Linked DNA regions of Homo sapiens: region 1 is linked to region 2. A link means that fine-mapping ties the variant in region 2 to the expression of a gene that starts in the linked region. Tissue or cell type: whole blood. Region 2 holds a variant in brackets; the other region holds the start of a gene. All regions are shown on one strand. Distances are from middle to middle.

What was found. PIP is the estimated chance that this variant, and not a neighbour inherited with it, causes the effect.
Region 1: it holds the start of FOXO1, and the variant in region 2 is fine-mapped to the expression of FOXO1 in whole blood (INTERVAL, PIP above 0.99).

Annotation. Positions count from the first base shown.
Region 1 is chr13:40,661,918-40,672,511 of GRCh38, forward strand. FOXO1 (forkhead box O1) reads right to left here and starts at 4,724. Exons shown (of 3, transcript NM_002015.4): 1 at 3,666-4,724. The coding sequence starts at 4,295. RefSeq lists silencers at 2,463-2,542, 2,843-3,352, 3,873-3,922, 4,013-4,152, 4,383-4,912 and an enhancer at 5,563-5,612.
Region 2 is chr13:40,394,234-40,404,827 of GRCh38, forward strand. The region is part of intron 6 of LINC00598 (long intergenic non-protein coding RNA 598); the gene reads right to left. Among named protein-coding and RNA genes, the nearest start is that of LINC00598, 81 kb to the right of the region's middle. The variant G/A (reference allele first, on the strand shown) is at 5,653.

The sequences.
Region 1 (10,594 bases), 270 kb after region 2:
AATCTCTGCACTTTAGGAGATCAAGGCAGGCAGATCACGAGGTCAGGAGTTCGAGGCCAGCCAAGCCAATATGTGAAACCCCCTCTCTACTAAAAATACAAAAATTAGCCAAGCATGGTGGCACGTGCCAGTAGTCCCAGCTACTCGGGAGGCTGAGGCAGAAGAATTGCTTGAACCTGGGAGGCGGAGGTTGCAGCAAGCCGAGATTGCGCCACTGCACTCCAGCCTGGGCAACAGAGTGAGACTCTGACTCAAAAAAAAAAAAAAAAAAAAAAAAAAGATATTTATCTTTAAATCAAAGAGGATACCTCTAATAAAACAATCTAAAAATTTATTTAACAAGAGTTAAGTGGTATAGTCAAAGTCATTCTTTTAACCTAAAGTGTTCCTAATAATATCAAAAGAGTCAACTCAAAACTGCCATTTATTAAAAAAAATCAGAGTTCAAACTACCACTTCCCAAGCTTTAGAAGGCTTTCTATGTGAAAAAACAGGTCATGGAAATGAAGTTTCATTATTTATAAATACTGCACTAGATTTAGAAGATCCCGGGTTTTCCAAAAGTCTTAGGTTCCACTTTGTGTGTGACCTTATAGCAATTCTAGCCAATATTACAACAAGTGTAAGACATTTAACATACCATCCCCACAAACACAAAATGCATATCCTTCAAATATAACCAGCACTTAACTATCTAAAGAATGACATTAAAAGTTTTTGAATTCATTAACAGTTTTCCAACTAGTTTGTCCTATGCAAATGACTCAAACTTTCAGGCAGGCCCCAGGAAGCAGCACACAAGAAACTATTTAATTAAAGATTCAGCCTAATTCCCAGTAGTAAATCACAGGAAATATTTTGTGCCAAAGCAACCTCTCCTCGGTCCTAAAACAGTTAAGTTTTGGTTGCTTTGCATTTAAAAACTGGATTTAAGTTAAAATTCATAGTAAAATTTCTCTTTTATGACTCTTAGAACAGGAGTCTTTCAGATCTGAGAGTGAAACTTGGTTTTAACAAGTAACTCATTTTTATGAAACTAACCAAAAGACTAGTTATGAGTTAGAACAGCTCAGGTTGTTTCTTTTCTTCTTAAAATACCCTTTTACTCAAACTGAAAATGTACTTGCTGCAATCAGACTTAAACCAACTGACATTACACCTGAAACACTTACTCATTTGAGAAAGGCAGCCTACTCCAAAGCAAAGCCCCATTAGGCTCCCACTGGGAGCTGCCCAAGGGCCTCCAATTCCAGACAGATAACTTAACAGGTCTCCTAGCTCTGGCAAATAAATTTAAAAAAAAACTAAATTATTCTTGCATTTTTAAAAAAATCAGAACAAGAACCTGATAAAAATGGTTGTAAAGATGATTTAACATCAGAATCTATTTTTTAAAAACCTAAATCTTAAAAAGTGTAAGCATATTCCTAGTTTAAGACTAACACTCTGACAATGCCATTTGAGACGCAAAACTAAAAATATCCCAAAACACTTCCTTTATCTTTAAAGAAAGGCACTCCAGCAAGTTGAAGTAGGTTGTATCCATTTCCAAGGACTAAAGAATGGTGTAAGTACACACTGTACTTTGAATGCAAAAAAAGGGGGGAGGATTTTTTTTTTAAATGGCTAATACTCTGTAACAGCTGAAGTGGAATTGATAGATGAGCAAGTAAGTCAAGTACTTAAATTCAAATGTTAAGTAAAACAAGATTTGGCAGACAATTTCGATTTTGTGACTTAATAGAATATATGCTGAACTTAACGGTAAGAAGGCACTTTACTTTTTTGAAACACTTGGTAAAATTGCATGTAATGCCTGGTAATGAAGCGATAAGTGATACCTTTACTCTAAAACACACTTTGGAAAAAATAAAATGAATCTTGAATTCCTTCTAAAGGAACTTCAATAAGGTGTGAGTAACTTAACCCTTTTGACACGCATTAACCACAGGGATGACACTGTGTGTAAAATAACCTTGGTGTTAACAACTGCGCAGCAAAGACCAATCTTTATTATGCCGTGGAGTCCAATATGAGAGGCGAAGAAAGGTATGTTTTAAAAAGGTGTTTAGCTCGGCCGGGAACGGTGGCTCACGCCTGTAATCCCAGCACTTTGGGAGGCCGAGGCGGGCCGATCACGAGGTCAGGAGATCCAGAACATCCTGGCCAACATGGTGAAACCCGGTCTCTACTAAAAACACAAAAATTAGCTCGACGTGGTGGCTCGTGCCTGTAATCCCAGCTACTCGGGAGGCTGAGACAGGAGAATCGCTTGAACCAGAGAGTCGGAGGTTGCAGTGAGCCGAGATCGCGCCACGGTACTCCAGCCTGGCGACAGAGCGAGACTCCGTCTCGGAGGAGGGGAGGGAGGTGTTTAGCTCAACTAGACAGCCTTTACAGCAATTCCGCCACCGGTGACAGTGAGAAACTGTCAGCTTGGGGAGGCCGCGCCACGACTGGACCCCGCCCCCGGGAAGCCTCCCCGGAGCCGAGGGCCCCCGGGCCTTCTCCTCGGAGTCGGGAAGTGCCTGCCCCCACGCTAAGTCTCTCCTGGCCACGCTCTGAAAGGCAAAAATGGCAAAAATCCTCCTTCAAGGCACCGCTCCCTCGACGCGCACCGCCACTCCGACTCCCTCAAAACATTGGTCGCAAAGCCCCCCCGCCTGGTCCTCCATGCTCAAGAATAGGGTGGCAAGGCAGGAAAAGACTCACACATCCCAGCCCCCGGCCCCTCAGGGCAGCCTCTGTGTTTCTAACTAAAAGCCTCCTACCAGGGGCAAGACCAAGTTCGGGCGCTTCCCCGCATGGAGAAACGCTGGCCCCACGGCGCCCGGCCCCGACGCGCTGGCCCTTTAAAGGCGCGGGCTTCCTGCGCCCGGGGCCCCTCCCACGCCACCGCCACCGCCACCGCCACCGCCCGCGCCCGCCCCCGCCGAGGGTCACACTTGAACTTTAGCTCGCCCCGCGCGGCCAGGCGCCGGCGCTCCGCAGGCGGTGGCCGCCCCTTCGCACGTGTCGGAGGCACCACCTCGGGCTCGGGACGCCGGGCCCCCGGCACTCGAGGCCACTCCGGAGAAAACCAAAACAAAGCAAAATGCGCACCGCCTCCAGAAACTGCCCGGCAGGCCCTGCACCGTCCCCGGCCGGTCGCGCCCTGCCTGTCCCCTCCACCTGCAGCCCGGTCCCGGGGCAGCGAGGCTCCGGGGCCCCTCGCCGCGCCCTCCCCCGCCGCGCCCGGCGGAAACAGCTCCGCGGCGCGGCCGGAGAGAACCCGCCCTCCCCCCGCGGAGGTCCGGGAGGGAAGGGGCAGCCGAAGCAGTCGGCGCGGGCCGGGGGTTGCCGCTCCCAGCGAACCCCTTTCTCCTTTCACTGGCAAACTTTTCGGCCTCGCTCTGACGTCCACTTCTTGGCGCACTTTCTTTACTTAGTTCCCCAACGAGCCCCTTACCGCGTCCCACGCGAACTCCTGACTGGCGCGCACGCACACCTACTGCCGTCCCCGACCGGACCCGGGCGAGGCCACCGCGACCACCGCTTCTCGCCCGCCCTCCTGGGAACGCGCTGCCCTCCTGCTCCGCACCTTCAGGCCGAGCAAACCTGCACAGCTGCGCCCTCGCCTGACCCACCGCGCCCCCAAGGTCCGGCCGCGCGCCGAGTCCACTCACCTTCCAGCCCGCCGAGCTGTTGCTGTCACCCTTATCCTTGAAGTAGGGCACGCTCTTGACCATCCACTCGTAGATCTGCGACAGCGTGAGCCGCTTCTCCGCCGAGCTCTCGATGGCCTTGGTGATGAGGTCGGCGTAGGACAGGTTGCCCCACGCGTTGCGGCGGGACGAGCTGCTCTTGCGCGGCTGCCCCGCGAGCGGCCCAGCGGCGGCGGGGGGCACCGGCGGGTGCTGCGACAGCGGCCCGGGCGGCGGGGGCTGCGGTGGCGCTGGGTGCAGGCAGCCCGCCTCCGGGCCCTGGAAGTCCCCGCACAGCCCCCCGGTGGCGGCCGCGGCGGCCGCCGCCGCCACCGCCGCCGCCACGGAGCCGGGCGCCTGCGGGAAGTCCTCGCTCTCCTCCAGCAAGCTCAGGTTGCTCATGAAGTCGGCGCTGACAGCGGCAGCCGAGGCCGAGGGCAGGCCCGCCGCGGCGTCGGGGTTGGCAGCCGCGCTGCCCGACGGCGCCGGGCTGGAGGTGGCCGAGTTGGACTGGCTAAACTCCGGCCTGGGCAGCGGCCAGGTGCACGAGCGCGGCCGGGGCAGCGGCTCGAAGTCCGGGTCGATCTCCACCACCTGAGGCGCCTCGGCCATGGTGACCCCCGCCCCTCCCCCAGCCGCAGGAGAGCCAAGAGGGGGAGAACGCAGCACTGGGGGCGGACGGGGAGGGGGCGCGAAGGGACGGTCCGAGATTTGGGGGAACGAAGCCGGTGCGGCGAGCGGACGGAAACTGGGAGGAAGGCGCGGCGGAGTGGAAGCGCGAGCCCAGAACTTAACTTCGCGGGGCCATCCACATCGAGGCTCCTCGGGGTCCGCCGCACGGACTGGACGGCCGGCCAGAGCCGCCGGGCCGGGGCAGAGCCTGCGCCGCGCTCCAGCTGACAGGGCCGCGGACGGAAGGACGGACGGACGCCGCGGGCCGCTTGCTCTCCCCAGCGGCGCGCCCGCTGCGCTGCTGCCTGTTGAATGTGGCGGCTGCGGCAGCGGCTGCTGCGACTACCAGGCCGCCCGACTTACGGGATCTGCCGCCGCCCCCCGCCCGCGGCGGCGCGCGCGCCGGCCCGCCCCTGACCGACAGCCCGCGCGGCCAATGGGCATGCGGCACCGCCGCCCGGGCAGCCAGTGGGCGCCGGGCTGGGTGGGGCCCGGTTTTCCACGGGGAGGCGGCGGTGGGCTGGTGGGGGGTAGTGGGGTGTTTTTCTCTTTCACACACTCACCTCCTTTTTTTTTTTTTGGATCTCTATTATTTTCTGGTAATTCTCGAGTGTTTCTGTGATTCTCTCGCCTTCTCAGTGTTTTGATTGCTAGGAAGCAAACCAGCGTGGAGGCGCCGGCGACACTTTGTTTACTACGGAGCAGCAGAGCCGAGTACTCGGGAAGCCCGGGTGGGAGGAGGCGCTCGCTGCTCCCTGACCTCCGCTGCGGGCCGAGCCCGGCGGGCTGGCAGGGCAGGGGGCCGAGGGCCGGGGGCGCGGGGTGGGCGGGCGGAGGCGGCCGCGAGGAATTCTACTCAATCGCTCCCTCCTGGCTCCACCCACGATGTCTTTGCTGAACGACGTGGGGAATCGGTGGGTTTTGTTTTGGTTTAATGTTTTCTTTCGCTGCGATCTGTCAAGTCCTCCGGCCCCCTCGCGAGCGGCACACGCCCCCCACCCCCGGCGCCGCGGCTCCTGCAGTCGAGTCCGCGCCGAGGGACCCTTCTCCGTGCCCACCGGTCCGCACCCCCGGGCTCAGCCTGTGCCATTCGGTCTAGCCAGAGGCGCGTCACCCAGCCGGCAGCCCCCAGCCGGATTCACTGTATTCTTGACCTTTTTTAAAATGCTAGAAATGAGGAACAGGGGCTCCGGCGCGGGGAGGAGATTATCTGGCCTCCCTGAACACACGAATCCAAAGGCACCCGCGACCGCATGCCCTCCGTGGGAACCTCTTCCCCTGGGCGGGAATCTCCCGCTCCGTCCACTAAGTCCAGGGCCGGCAGCGAAGGGCTCAGGAGCGCAGTTAGAGAGAACCAGGTCATTTTATTACTTATCCCTAATTAAATTTAGCTGTTTGTTACTTCTTTTTTATTTGCAACGGAAGTGATCGGGTGTTAAGTAAAAACGCAAGGGGGGCGGGAGATAGGACCAAAGCCTTGGGGCGCAGCCTGCCCCACCCCCAAATTCCTTGAGGCTACTTGCTGTGTGTGTCAGTCAACCCCCCACCCACACCCCACCTTTCCTCATCTGGGCTGCAGGTCCAGGACATCCTGTCAAGGATCAGTGGGGCCAAAGGTGGGAAGATAATGGCCCTTGTGTCTCAAGCAGAAGAAACAGTTTTCCAGTTTTGTTTTGTTATGCTTTTGCTTTTTTAGGAAGAATATGGAAGGCATTTCCTTTTAGAAAGATGGGACCACTTAGGATGGAAGATGGACAGTAGGGTTTTAAATATCTTGTCCAAAAGGACAGCTTCCAACTCTTGTTTTTTAATCCCTTTCTTTCTTACAAGTAATTCTGCAATGGAAAAAGTGGCATCTAGAGAAAATTAGTCAGTTGGACAAGAGGTTGTTGAAAAAATAAAAGAGAAAAGAGGGGAAAAAAGGAAAAATTAGGCCTCTTACAAAAGTTAAAAAGATTGAGAGAGATTATCTTTCTTCTTTTATATTCTCACTATCGTCTCTCTAGTCCGGGCTCCTGTTTCTTCATAATCTATTTATCACAACAGCTTCTTGCTGATACTAGGCATGGGTGGGGTGGGGAGCGTGAGCCGGATGGATTGGGGACGGGCGGGGACTGGTTCCCACCCTGGTCTTGTGGTCTCTTCACGTTTACTATCAAATTTGGACAGTCTGGGCCTCCTCTGACAGCCGCTAGGGGACCTCAGTAACTCAGATGATGAGCTCAAAGGCAGGCCCCCAAAGTACAGCTGTTGCTTCCCCCCACCTTTCCAATTACACTCTGCAGAAGCAGCCCCCGATCCAGACAGCCGCACCCTAAAAATAGGCGGTGCCCTACTGGATCATTCTTGGCAAAGGAAGCCAGCTTCAAATTTGGCCTTGCCTTCATTTCTATTCCGGTTTTTCAGGGCGTCAGAGAATATTTATTTGGTTAAAGGAGTCTTCCTACAGACTTTCCCCAAATCCTTGAAATCTTTGAGGCTCTCCTGCCCAATTGTTTCTTCAAATGTCATAGTTTACTTTTATTTGGTCTTTCTTTAAAAAAATTGACGAGGCAGGCACAGAGAACCTATAACACCAATGTCCCTGACACATAGGTCCAAAAAATTAAAAATATATATTGAAGGGTTTTTACAGCTAACCACCACACTGTTGTATCTAAATATCAATTTACTGAACCCCAGGATGTTGGTGAATATTTCACTTGTTTCCAGTCTTTAGCTATCATAGACTATTCTGTAAGAAATAACCTTGCAGGGAGGCCGAGGCGGGCGGATCATGAGGTCAGGAGATAGAGACCATCCTGGCTAACACGGTGAAACCCGTCTCTACTAAAAATACAAAAAATTAGCCGGGCGTGGTGGCGGTCGCCTGTAGTCCCAGCTACTCAGGAGGCTGAGGCAGGAGAATGGCGTGAACCCGGGAAGCGGAGCCAAGATCGCCCCACTGCACTCCAGCCTGAGCAACAGAGCGAGACTCCGTCTCAAAAGAAAAAAAAAAAAGAAATAACCTTGCATAACTTTAATTTCATATCTGTACAAGTATATATATAGGAGCAATTTCCAGAAATGGGAGTCACTGGGTCAGCAGGTATACCCATTCGTAGTTTTGAAAGGCACAGCCAAATTGTGCTCCACAAGGGTTATATCAAGCTAAACTGTCTTTTCCATTAGACCCACAGAACGTTAAACTTGAAAGTAAACTCGGAGATCACCTTGGTGACCCCCTTTAACTTAGAAAAAGAGAGGTGCAGAGATGCTGATTTGCCCCAGCGCACATAATAAAAGTGGTGATGCCAGGGCTGTAGCTCTAATTTTTTGCTTTCCCATTAGTAACCTTCTCAAAACACAGATGGAAAATTATAAATATCCTGTAATCCCACTATAGCAATAACCATTATAACTTCGTAGTGTATTTCCTTCCAGTCAACCCGCAGATCTTAGTAATCATAGTTAGGTGAACTCCACTGAACCAAATAAAGGTTTGAATTAAAAGAACAAATAGGCCGGGCACAGTGGCTCATGCCTGTAACTCCAACAGCTTGGGAGGCCGAGGCAGGTGGATCACCTGGGGTCAGGAGTTCCAGACCAGCCTGGCCAACATGGTGAAACCCCATCTCTACTAAAAATACAAAAATTAGCTGGGCGTGGTAGCAGGTGCCTGTAATCCCAGCTACTCAGGAGGCTGAGGCAGAAGAATCCCTTGTACCCCGGAGGTGGAGGTTTCAGTGAGTCGAGATCACACCACTGCTCCAGCCTAGGCGACAGAATGAGACTGTATCTCAAAAAAATTTAAAAATTAAAAAAAAATAAAATAAAATAAAAGATCAAGAAAACAGACATAAAACAATGATAGTGGTAATAAGATAATGAAAGAAGAGATTACAAAAGAAGTTTTTCTGTTTTTTTTTTTTGTTTTTTTTTTAGTCAAAAATGTAAATGTTGCCATCTCTGAAGGGTGACATAGTATTTAGGTCATCCCTGGTTCTGCTTAAGGGAAAAAGTTCTTTTCTCCTTCCTTGTGTTTTGTGGTTGCAGCTTGCTTTGAAGGTATTTTCTACTGATTATCACTTAGTTGCTGCATGTGTCTGAACTGGGAAGAAATAGGGAAGAAAAATGTCTCATGTCAAGTAAGGACAATTAAAATGAAAAAGGAAATTTATCCTTACAAAGTCCATCTCACAAAACTATGTGATGTTCTTTTCTGTGCCTGGTTTTCAGGGTAACTATTGCCTCATCCTTAACAGGAAGACTGAGGGATGGTTCCCTTTGATCAATGCCCAGGCAGAAATTTCTACATTTACCCCTCACCAACACATGATAGATCTCGGGTTTAAATTTAAATTTTTACTTGTCAAAATAGATAATTTAAGTTCCATTTAATGAGTAAGTGAAAAACTTGGATGCTGATTTTTCAGTCAGGGCACTTCACTTCGTATTTCACATTCCCTTTCCCCAACAACTGTCCGTTTCCAAAACTTTGTCTGAATTATTAGGAGGTACTGCTGTCAACCTGAAACAGCCTTTCTTCACTTAGCCCATAGAAAGTAATAATCTGAAAAAAATATATATAGCCTCAGGTCTTTAAACCAATGTCCTGAAGGCTGGCATATTAACTGGTAGCTGTAGTAAGATTAGAAGTAACCATTCGTTTCTCTTAAGGGATAATTTCCTTGGGGTTTTGTCACTAATTCCACAAATATCTACAGAGCACCTCCTACATATATGTCAGGTGCTGTGCATCTTAGAGTCCATTGTTTTGATGCTAAATTCCTTGAGCTCCAAAATGGTTTATTTTCCCTGATACGATATTTGCTATCAGAGTTAAGAACGCTGTTCTTTTCTAATCAGCAATGCATAGTGACAATATTTATTTGGAGGAATTACACAAAAATGTTTTTGATAGGTAAAAGAAATGCTAAGGCTGGAAAAATTGAAATATAGTCACCATTTTGGAGGAAAATAATGATATGAAGTGGAAAAGATTTAAAAATGCACCATCCACAGGCACTGGGAGTATGAGTTCCGACCACTAAGCCTCATGGTTGGGATGATCTTATTACAAATGGACAAAAGACGGAGACTACCTCTGGTTATCTGTCTACTAACCTGTAACAGAAGGGAAGCAGTGAACCACTTCTTTTGTCAATTCTGTTGTGAAGGGCCAGTGTTTGTCAACTTCAATAAACTATTCCTTCACTTTAGGTATTAGTGAGAGACTACTTGTGGGTCTCTGCAGGAATACTAACACATATTTGTAGATAACCTAAATGACCAACTATAGAGAATGGTTAAATAAATAATGGCATATCTATAAGGTGGCATTTCACACAGCCATTTAAAATAAAATCTTTGGGCCGGGCATAGTGGCCCACACCTGTAATCTCAGCACTTTGGGAGGCTGAGGCAGGCAGATCACTTGAAGTCAGGAGTTCCAGACCAGCCTGGCCAACGTGGTGAAACCCTGAAACCCTGTTCTACTCAAAATACAAAAATTAGCCAGGCACGGTGGCGCAAGCCTGTAGTCCCAGTTACTAGAGAGGCTGAGGTGGGAGGATCACTTGAACCCAGGAGACAGAGGTTGCAGTGAGCTGAGATCATGCCACTGCACTCCAGCTTGGACGACAATAAAATAAAATAGCTTTCCCAAGCCAAAAGGGGATTCACATTAGAATTAAAATTCTTTCTAACATTGAGAACTCATATAATTGCCATAAAATTAATGATGGTACATGAAATTCCAAATTCTCTGAATGTCACAAATCTGAATCTTACATTCATGTTTGAAACACAATGTGTTTTCACTATTTTATTTCTGTTTCTTGTCATATTAAAGCTCTTAACACACTTCCAAAAAAGGGGGGACATATGCATTAAATAAGAAAATGCTGCCATGTTGAACACAGATGGTACAACATTTCTGGCAGAAAGGAAGTTTAACAAGGCATTTAACTTATTTACTTGGAAAACTAATAAGCATGAATGTTCAAGTAAAGCAGTAAGAAATTAATTGCTGTTTTACAATAATCAGTTTTTCCAATCTAATCGCCCTATTTCCATACCATGATAGCAGAGAAAGGGAGTCAAGTGTGATTGTAAACAAACTACTGACTAAGAGAATCCAGGATAGGAATGAAGGAAGAAACTGTTAGCATTTTATAGTAACTAACCAAGTTGTTTGTCATTTGTTGATAAAAATCAATAACAAGAGGTAATAACTGTGTAGTTAGAGTACATGTGTT
Region 2 (10,594 bases):
AAATTCCCACTCACAACCAAAACTTTTTGGCCGGGTATAGAGCAAGAAATCTGTACATCCATCAGCAACTCCATCCAGTCAGTCAGTGCATCAAATCAGGAGAGTAGTTGAAAAAGCCCCAATGAGATGATGAATTAATGCACTTTGCTGCTTCTTCCCCTGAACCAAATTCTGAGATACTCCGGGAGCAAAAAGAAATGTGGTGAACCCCAAAACCCAGTGTTACTGCTGTGAGACTCACCCGAGAACACAGAAGGTGGCTAGGTTGCTATGCAGACAAGGCATCCTAGGCTGGAGGAGGGCAAGGCCATCGATGAGCATAGAGCCATGGAGAGCTGTCAGTCTCTGCCCTTTTCTTTCCCCAACATGAACCTGGGAAGATAAGTATCTGCCCATCGTCTAAATGCAGCAATGCCAGCCCAGCCCAGTGCCTGCTGGAAATGAAGGGACACATTGGAGCAGCCCAAAACAGACTTAAGAAGGTCTCTGAGGAGCAAAGTCACCCTGTTACGGAAAAGGTACAAACAGAGAAAGGATCCCTAATACAGTTCCAAGGCAATATGATTCAGGAGGAAAAATGAGTCATTAAATAAGAACAACAGCTCATTTAACAATGTATGCCAGAGGGAGCAGATATCATGGACACAGAAAAAGAACCTAAAAGAAAAGAAGCCCCTATAGGCCTTTGGAGGCTGAGGCAGGAGGATTGCTTGAGGCTAGGAGTTTGAGACCAGCCTGGGCAACATAGGGAGACTCCATCTCTATAAAAAATAAAGAATATAACAGGAATTGTACAAATGTAAATGAGTTGAACTCACCAATCAGATTAGATTTTTTTTAGATTTTTTTTATTTATATAGCATTATGCATTTGCAGGGCACCCTTTTAATAATCATTAAAAATGTAATAAAGTTAATCAGAAAAATCTGAACCAAAAATAAGCCAACATAATTAATTGTCACACAAAGTTTTGTAAAAAAACATAATAATAACCAGAGGAATATTAAAAATTGGTAAAACACTCAAGAAGAATATGAAGATAAAATGAATGTATATGTACTTAACAACGTGGTCTCAAAACATAAACCAAGTCTGAAGAAAATGCAATAAAACAACTGTGGTTAGATTTTAATAAGCCCCTTTCAGGAACTGATGGAGCAAAGAGACAAATAAAAGTAGAGAAATATAAATAGTTGTTAAGCTCAAGTGTTAGGTATATACAGTTCTGCATGAAAGAAAGAAAACATTCTTTTAAAACAATCATGAAATATTCACCAAAATCTGCCATGTACAATCTCACAAAGGAACCTCAATAAATTTCCTAAAGTCATACACACTATGTTCTTTGAATATCATGAATAATTTATGCCAGAAAATTAGATAACCTAGCACAGTGGCCCCCAACCTTTTTGGCACCATGGAAGACAATTTTTCCATGAACCAGGGTTGGGGGGTGGTTTCAGGATGATTCAAGGGCATTACATTTATTGTGTACTTCATTTCTATTATGACTACATTGTAATATATAATGAAATAGTTATACAATTCACCATAATGTAGAACAAGTGGGAGCCCTGAGCTTGTTTTCCTGCAACTAGATGGTCTCATCTGGGGATGATGGGAGACAGTGACAGATCATCAGGCATTAGATTCTCATAAGGAGTGCCCAACCTAGATCCCTGGCATGCGCAGTTCACAATAGGGTTCACACTCCTAATCTAATGCTGCCACTGATCTGACAGGAGGCGGAGCTCAGGCAGTAAGGCAAGAGATGGGAGCAGCTGTAAATACCGATGAAACTTTACCCGCTCTCCCACCACTCACTTCCTGCTGTGTGGCCCAATTCCTAACAGGCGATAGTCCAGTATTGGTCCATGGCCCAGGGGTTGGGACCCCTGACCTAGAAGAAATGGGCAAATTATTTGAAACACACATATTACCTAAACTAACTCAAGAGCATAGAAAATCTCAGCAGACCCATAACAAGAAATTGAATCAATAATCAAAAAATTTTCCAACAACAAAAAAAATGTTCCACACCAGAAGGCTTACTGGTGAATTCTACTGAACATTTTTAAAAGAATTAACAGCAGTCTTTTTCGATCTATTCCAAAAGCTTGAAGAGGAAGAACACTCCCTAAGTCATTGTATATAAGGCCAGCATTACTCTAATACCAAAGTCAAAGACACTACAAGAAAAGAAAACTACAGACCAATAATCCTTTATGAATACAAATACAAAAGTCCTCAACGAATTAAAGAGAGTCTTCACTTAAGGTCATGGGTAAGTTATTGGAAACTGTGACTTTTAAGCAAAATGACATACAGCAAGTCCTTCAATAATGCTTCCTGTTCAACTTCATTGTATGTTAATTTTAATGAAAAAAAAAAAAAACACCTGTTTTTGTTTTAGGTCATTTTGCTTAAAGTCACAGTTTCCAAGGATGTGTTGATGATGTTGAGAAGTTACTGTACTAGCAAGCTGAGTTCAGCAGCGTGTTCAAAGAATTATACACAATGACTAAATGGGATTTATCCCAGGAATGGAAGGGTGGTCCAATATATAAAAAACTAACCAATAATAATTAATTATCAAAATCCCAATGGCATTTTTTGCAAAAATAGAAAAACTCATCCTAAAATTCATATGGAATTTCAAGGGACCCCAATTAGCTAAAAGTATGTTGAAAAAGAAGAACAAAGTTGAAGAACTCATACTTCTCAATATAAAAACTTGATTGACATAGCTACAGTAATCCAAACAATTTGGTACTAGCATAAGGATAGACATGTAGACCAATGGAGTAGAAATGAGATCCTAGAAATAAACTCCCACATCTATGGTCAACTTATTTTTGATCATCCAATGGGGAAAGAACAGATTCTTCAAAAAATGCTACTGCAAAAACTGGATATCCACATGCAAAAGAATAAAGCTGGATCCTTCCCTTACACCATATACAAACATTAACTGAAAATGGACCAAACACCTAAACATAAGAGCTAAAACTATAAAACTCTTAGAAAAAAAAACATAGGGACAAATTTTCATGGCCTTGGATTTGGCAGTGATTTCTTAAATATAGCACTAAAAGCACAGGTAACAAAAGAAAAAAAATGACAAACTGGATTTGATGAAAATTTAAAACTTCTATTCATCAAAGGACACTATCAACAGAATGAAAAGACAACCCACAGATGGGAGAAAATATTTACAAATCACATATTTAAAAGGTCTAATATCTAGAATATATAAAGAACTCCTATAACTCAACAACTAATAGACAACCCATTATAAAAAAAAAAAAAAAAAAGACTTGAGTAGACATCTCTCCAAAGAAGATATACAAATAGCCAGTAAGCACGTGAAAAGATCCTTAACACCATCAGTCATTAAGGAAATGCAAATCATAACCACAATGAGATACCACTTAATACCTACTAGGATGGCTATAATTGAAAACACACACAAACACACACACACACACACACAGAAAGAGAGAGAAAATAACATGTGGACAATAATGTGAAGAAATTGGAACCCTCCTACATTGCTGGTGGGAATGTAAAACTGTGTAGACATTGCAAAAAACAGTTGGCAATTCCTAAAAAAAAAAAAAAATGTAGAATTATCATGCGGCCCAGCAATTCACCTCTTAAATATATAACCCAAAAAACTGAAAATAGGAATTCAAACAAATATATGAACACCAGTGTTCAAGGCAACATTATTCACGGTAGCCCAAAGGTGGAAACAACCAAGGTATCCATCAGCAGATGAATAGATAAACAAAATGTGATATACACATACAATGGAGTATTATTTAATCATAAAAAGATATGAAGTTCTGATACATGCTACAACATGGATGAACCTTGTAAACATTACTCCAAGTGAAATAGGCCAGACAGAAAAGAACAAATATTGTATGATCCCACTTATATGAAATATCTACAATAAGCCAATACATAGAGACAGAAAGTATATTAGAGGTTACCTGGGGCCAAGGGAAAGCAAGAACAGAGGGTAATTGCTCAACAGGGGCAGAATTTCTGGTTGGGTGATGAAAAAGTTTTGATGATGGTTGCACAACATTTTGAATGTAAGTAATGCCACCGAATTGTACACATAAATGGTTAAGACGACAAATTTTGTTTTGTCTATTTTAGCACACACACACAAACACACCTTTAAATAACCAGGCAAATGAGAAGAAAATACTTATTAGGAAGCCAAGAAGTGGGAAAAAAGAAATAACTAGAAGAAATTCAGACAATGGAGTTGTCCGTCATTGAATTTAAAATAACTATGCTTAATATGTTTGCAGAAATTTTCTTGGCTCACTGCAACCTCCGCCTCCTGGGTTCAAGCAACTCTCATGCCTCAGCCTCCTGAGTAAATGGGACTACAGGTGCCCGCCACCGTACCCGGCTAATTTTTGTATTTTTAGTAGAGATGAACTGAAATATACCTGTAATGACATTAAATGCAAACCAATTAAACACTCCATTTGAAAGACTGAGAAATCAAGCCAAACTCAACTATATACTGCTGACAAAAGACCCACCTTAAATATAAAGAAATAGAAATGTTGAAGGTAAAAGGATGACAAAGATATATCATACAAATCCTAACCCAAAGAAAGCTGATGTAGCTATACTAATATTAGATAGTGTAGACTTTAAGGCAAGAAGCACTTCTAGAAATAGAGACACTTCATAAGTGTAAAAGCTTCTACCAAGAAGATACAGCAATTTTAAATTTCTAAGCACTTAACATCATAGACTCAAAACATATAAAACAAAAAGACAAAACTAAAAAAAGTAAAAATGCATAATCTTTGTGGGGGATTTTAATACATTAATATATTTAATATATTTCTCAAAGCAGACATAAAGTCAATAAAGATATAAAATATATGAACCACACAATTAAATAACTTAACCTAACTGAGATACACTAGTTACTACACCCCAAAATTAAATAATACGCAGTCTTTTGAAATTTGCTTGAAAAACTTACCAAAATAGATCCTAGTCCATGCCCTGGGAATATTTCAAAAGGCTGAAATCTTACAGTGTCTATTCTTTAATCAATGACAGAAAGGAATTAGAAAATCTGTGAATGCTTGGAAATTAAGCACCAAAAATGCTTGGAAATTAAGCACTACACATACACAGTCCAAACACTGTACAGCCTCCAAAAATATACATATCTAAGGACTCATACAATGAATTAGAGTGGGTGTCAGCGGACAGAGAATAGTAAATAAGGAAATAAAAAATAAATAAAATGTAACCAACAGACAGGCCATGCACAGCATGATAATTTTGGTGACTCATGACCCAAAAAGTATGTTGAATTCAACCCTGTACACCTGAGGTCAAAAATTAAATAAATAAATAATTTTATAAAGAATTAACTTCTAGAAATCAGAAAATCTAAATCCTAGCATATTCCAAATATACTGTCAAGTCAATGTCTTTGGGCTTCATGTTTGGCATCTACAGAGGATGAATACTAATATTAATGAATAGTCTTTGTATCTCACCCATCAATTCAACAAGCAGCCATTGAATATGTTATGTGGCAGACACTGCACCAGTTGGTGGGGACACAGTTCCAGCTCTCAAGCCTCTTATTCCTCAAGG[G/A]CACCGATGTCATACAAAGCAAAAGAAGGAAATTTTGTAATAACAACCACAAAGCAAAATTGCACAGAAGCCACGGGTTACACAACAAAGTTCCAGGTATTTGATAACTGATTTTGACCTGGCTGAGGAGGACCTACCTTTTTTTTTTTGAGACAGCGTCTCACCCTGTCACCCAGGTTGGAATGCAGTGGTGCAGTCATGACTCACTACAGCCTCCACCTCCCTGGGCTAAGTTGATCCTCCCACCTCAGCCTCCCAAGTAGCTGGGACTACAGGCACACACCACCGTGCCCGGCTAACTACAGGCACACAACACCATGCCAGACTAATTCTGTATTTTGTAACTTTTGTATTTTTGTTTCACCATGTTGCCTAGGCTGCTCTCAAACCCCTGGCCTCAGAAGATTCACCGGTCTTGGCCTCCCAAAGTGCTGGGATTACAGGCATGAGCCACCATGACCAGCCAGGACCTATCTTCTGATCCTGGGAATGCTATGCAACATGTGAGCTCCTTCAGGGCAGGGGCAAAGGATTTTCGATTCTGCAATTCCAATGTTTAGCCAAACAAGAGCGTATTACGTTTTTGTTGAATGAATGAATGAATGAATGAATGAAGAATGGATGTCAGTTTGAGCCAGTATTCCAAGTTCTATATTTCTACATCAAGATCCAGGTATAGAAAGAACTGGGGCCTGTGACTGGAGGCAGACTTTACTGCATCCACAAGCAGGTAAACATCATTTGGTGCTGAACTCGAGACAATGTCCAACCCCACACGCAGTCATAATTCCAGGACTTACATCAGAGCATTGGAGAATTTCATTATCTGTCGGCCAACTGTGAATCAAATGCACACAATGCTGAGAAAGAACCACCCATCGTAAAGCCTTAAAAAATAACCTGCTTTCCAATGCATATGCGGGAATAAATAAGCACCTACCAGAGTGCTTGCTGACAATATGAGCAGGAGGATACCCTCCCCATAAGGTTCTTGGAAGAATGACATGAAGTGTAAAAGGCCTGACAACTAGAGGTGCTCAATAAATATTTGCTACTAAATACACAGTGGGTATTCTGTAAATATGAGTTTTTCTTCTCCCTCCTTTCTCACACTCTCCCACCTTTCCAAGAGAGGCAGGTAACCATGAAATAGAGAAATACTTTGAGGAATTTTCCTGCACAATTCTAGCTATATTGAACTGAAGAAAAACATAGCCACTGTTGTAGCATGGAGAGGCCAGGGATACTGGGTGCCACAGGGGGATTCTGGAAGAAGGAGAGACTAGATTTGGGGAAAGAACCATCTGTCTCTGCAAAAGGCCCCAACTTTCCTTCAAAAACTTATTTTCTATTAGGCCTTTGCCCAAACTTAACAACAGATATTTATGTAAAACTGCCTATGTGCCAGGCACTCTTCTAAGTGCTTTACATAGAATCCTAACAACAGTCCAATGAAACAAGTACCATTATCATCCCCATTTTATAGATGCAGATGCTAAGAACTAGAAGGATGAAGAAGTCCAGAGAGTCTCAAAACTGCTTGGGATTTATATCAGTACCTCTAGGAAATGTGTTAAAATGTAAATTCACATCCTCCAGGATTAGGCAAAGTAACTAAGAAAAAAGAAAATTGAGGACTGACAAGAAGACCAAAGGTGGAACCCTGAGAAACAGCAGCTACATTTATGGGACAGATGGAGGAAGAATTGACCTCAGGGTGTGGTGTGAGAAGGTAGCAGGAGAGCCAAGGCAGGGTGCTGTCTTGGCCATTCAGGGAAGGGTGTTCAAATAATGAGGTCACGTCAACCATTTCAGGAAGGTATTGGGAAGTGTTTGCTGGGATTGGCAATTAGCAGGTCACTTACAACTTTGTTGAGAAGAGTTTTAGTGTCGTGCTGGGGAAAGAATAATGGTCTCATCCTCAAATACCTTGTAAGACCCTTGAAGGAATCTCTCTCTCTCTCTCTCTCTCTCTCTCTCTGCGTCTGTTATCTTTGACCAGGCTTATACACAGTAAGTGCTCATTTTGCTGATTTTGCCATTGCTGACAAAGATAATGACATTCTACTATTGCTGTTATGAAGTCAAGAGCAAAAGATGGTGTGTATGTGAGTTGAGATTTCGAAAATATGGGTGCAGGAGGCAATTACCCCTCAATTTCAGTTAGGTAGGAAAGGGGGCAGGCAGACAGAGCTTCCTGCATTGCAGAGAGAGATGACCACAGGATGCCCCATAGACAGAGACCAACTCTACTCAGCCAGAGAGAGAAACTGCAGTTCTCCGATAGTAAATGCAGTTGTCCCCTCTTATGGAGACTCAGCTGCCAAAAACTTAGGTGAAGGTTCAAGGTCACTGTGAACCCAGGGCCACCCTGAAATGCTGTCCATTTGTCTGCCTCTAGTCCTTTTTCGGCTTCTAAAGTCCAATCATTCTTTGCCCTTATAACCACTCTGGTGTGTCTTGGAGAGAAAACACAGTTCTTCACGGTTTGCCAGTAGTCGAGGGAGGAATCTGAAAGCTGACTGTTTCTCCCACAGCTTCAGGAGCATTAAAACTTCAAAAGAGGAACTATTTATGCTGTCATTACCACAGCGGTCACTTCTGCAGGATTTCTTTCTCTGATGCAGCACTGGTTGGACACACTTGGCCCAGGGCCGAGAGGGGAGAGGAGGGCGTTACAGAGACACTGAGTCATCCTGCCTCCTCCACGCCCTCCGCAGCTGCCCCTCACTGCACTTCCTCCTCCTCCTCAAGTTAAAGGTCAGCCTCTCATGCTCGTGCCAAGTTTTGCGAAACACACATACGCCAAAAAAAAAAAAAAAAAAAAAGGCTTCAGAAAGGGTAAATTTTTTAACATGAAAAGAAATAAGGAAAGCCTCCTTCAAAAATACATGCAAAAATAAGTAATCCTTCCCCCATACTACTTAATAACTCCAGAATGATAAAAATTTTCCAATTGTGAATATGTAAGGAATAAAATAAAAGGAATGAATGCCCCACTGTGTTAATGCAGCCCTTTTTAAAATGATCCTAATTTCTTCCAGAAGGCTCTGGAGGGTAGATTGCAAGGTTTGTCTTAATATAGAATTATTCCCTTCTCTCCGCTTGTCTTTAGAACCAGTGTGAACATGGTGATATTTTACAGTTGGCAACCTGTACTTCGCTGCTCAAAAATGCTGCATTCCAAGGGCTACAATCATGCATTGTGCATTTGAAATGCCTGTTGCTAAGAACAAATATCAACCCCAGGACGACCCCACTCAGCAGATCGGCCAACTCCCGCACAGAGCTGTTTCCCGACCTCTGGTCAGAGACAGGAAGCCCATTGGACCCTAGGCCCAGGCAAGTGCGGAGGGTTCCCAGGCAGGTGACATGGTAAAATGTAGACGACTAGCTCTCTGTCTGTCTTCAGGATAACGTCTGCCTCCCACCCTTCCTGGTCCCAGCTTAGGAATGTATGCAGCCCTTTTATGTGCATTGCCAGGAGGCTTGTGAAGTAGATTGGACAGAGGTTTTACAGCATTGTTCCTATTTAACTGATCAAGGACTGAACCTTGTAGTTTAACAACATGAAGTTGTACGGGAACAACTAAGCAGTTGCTGGACTAAAACCCTCAGCTTCCGAATCGCAGCCCCATTAAACTCACTTCCAGCCCCGTTGTACCCTCTTTCCCCATGAGGCCGCCCCAGTGGTGCTGAAAACAGGGACTGACCTGGTTGCAACGGGAGCCTGGGGTCCTGTTCTTTGCATGTTCCCACACTGCCCTTAAAGGCTGACTGCCCCGTGGGCACTGTACATCTGCAGATCACTCGCTTTCGACATTCAGAGACCTCCATCTCATGGCAGGGTTGCCCGTGTCCACACCTCGCACTTCTCCCATGCCACTTACAGCCTGTTTCAGATTAGTTTTAACAATTGTTTTCTGGAGATTTTCCAAACTTTCCTCAGCCAAACAATCAGGGAAAGGGATAGGCCTGGCGCCGTGCAGAGGAATGGAGCCCTTCCCGCCCTGGAGCCACCTCCAACAGAGGCAACTCCGTGTACGGTGAACATTACCCTAACTGGTGAAAGTGATGATGTTCAATTATGTTGTATGTTATGTGCTTTTGTTTTTTGCACTTCTCTGTAAATGTCCTTCTTCCTAGTGAGTGGAGGGGTGTTGGGGGCGGAGTACTAGGATGTGAAAGTAAACACCAAGAGAAAGGTACAGGTTCAACGTGAGCATCTACAATAGGATTATCAAACCTGCAGAAAGGCTTTGTTAGGAGAGAAAGGGGTTTCCTCAATCCCTCTTTCTACCTTTCTTTAACATTTCAGAAGGCAAGTCTGGCAAACCTGCTCCCGGAGTTCTACCTGAGAGACATCTCACCCATTCTCCTGATGAATGGAGAGAAGAAGGAAGACAAAGAGAGAGGGAGAAATTTGGGGACAAGGAATGTGATCCCCACCCCCTAAGTCCCACATCTCTCAAAGGGGGTCTCAGGGGCTTTACAGGCACTGGGTTAGGTATGGGGAGCCCAAACCATCGGCTGAGCGCATGCTGCTGGGACCTTCCAGGGCAGTCTGCCATTTGCAACATGAAGCAGGAACAGTGGTGCCCAGGAGGCATGGGATGCGACGAGATGGATCATTGGAGGACATGGCCTGGGTCTCCATGGCTGGTGGACTGCAGGTCAGGGCCCAGAAGTTCCCCATGCCTCTGTGAATACAAGTGGAAGTGATGAGAGGCAGCTGGGTTGGCATCGACCTGGATGGGAGTGAAGAGGCCACAGGGGGAGGCTGTGAGAGAAAACACATGGCCACCACCATGTTACAAGAAAGTCACGGTATTAACTACAATCACATTTGGGCACTACCTTCAAGTAACAAGCAGAATCACCACTCCCCTACCTCCACCAATATCACCCTGGCCCAAGTCAGTTTTGTCTCCCATCCTGACTT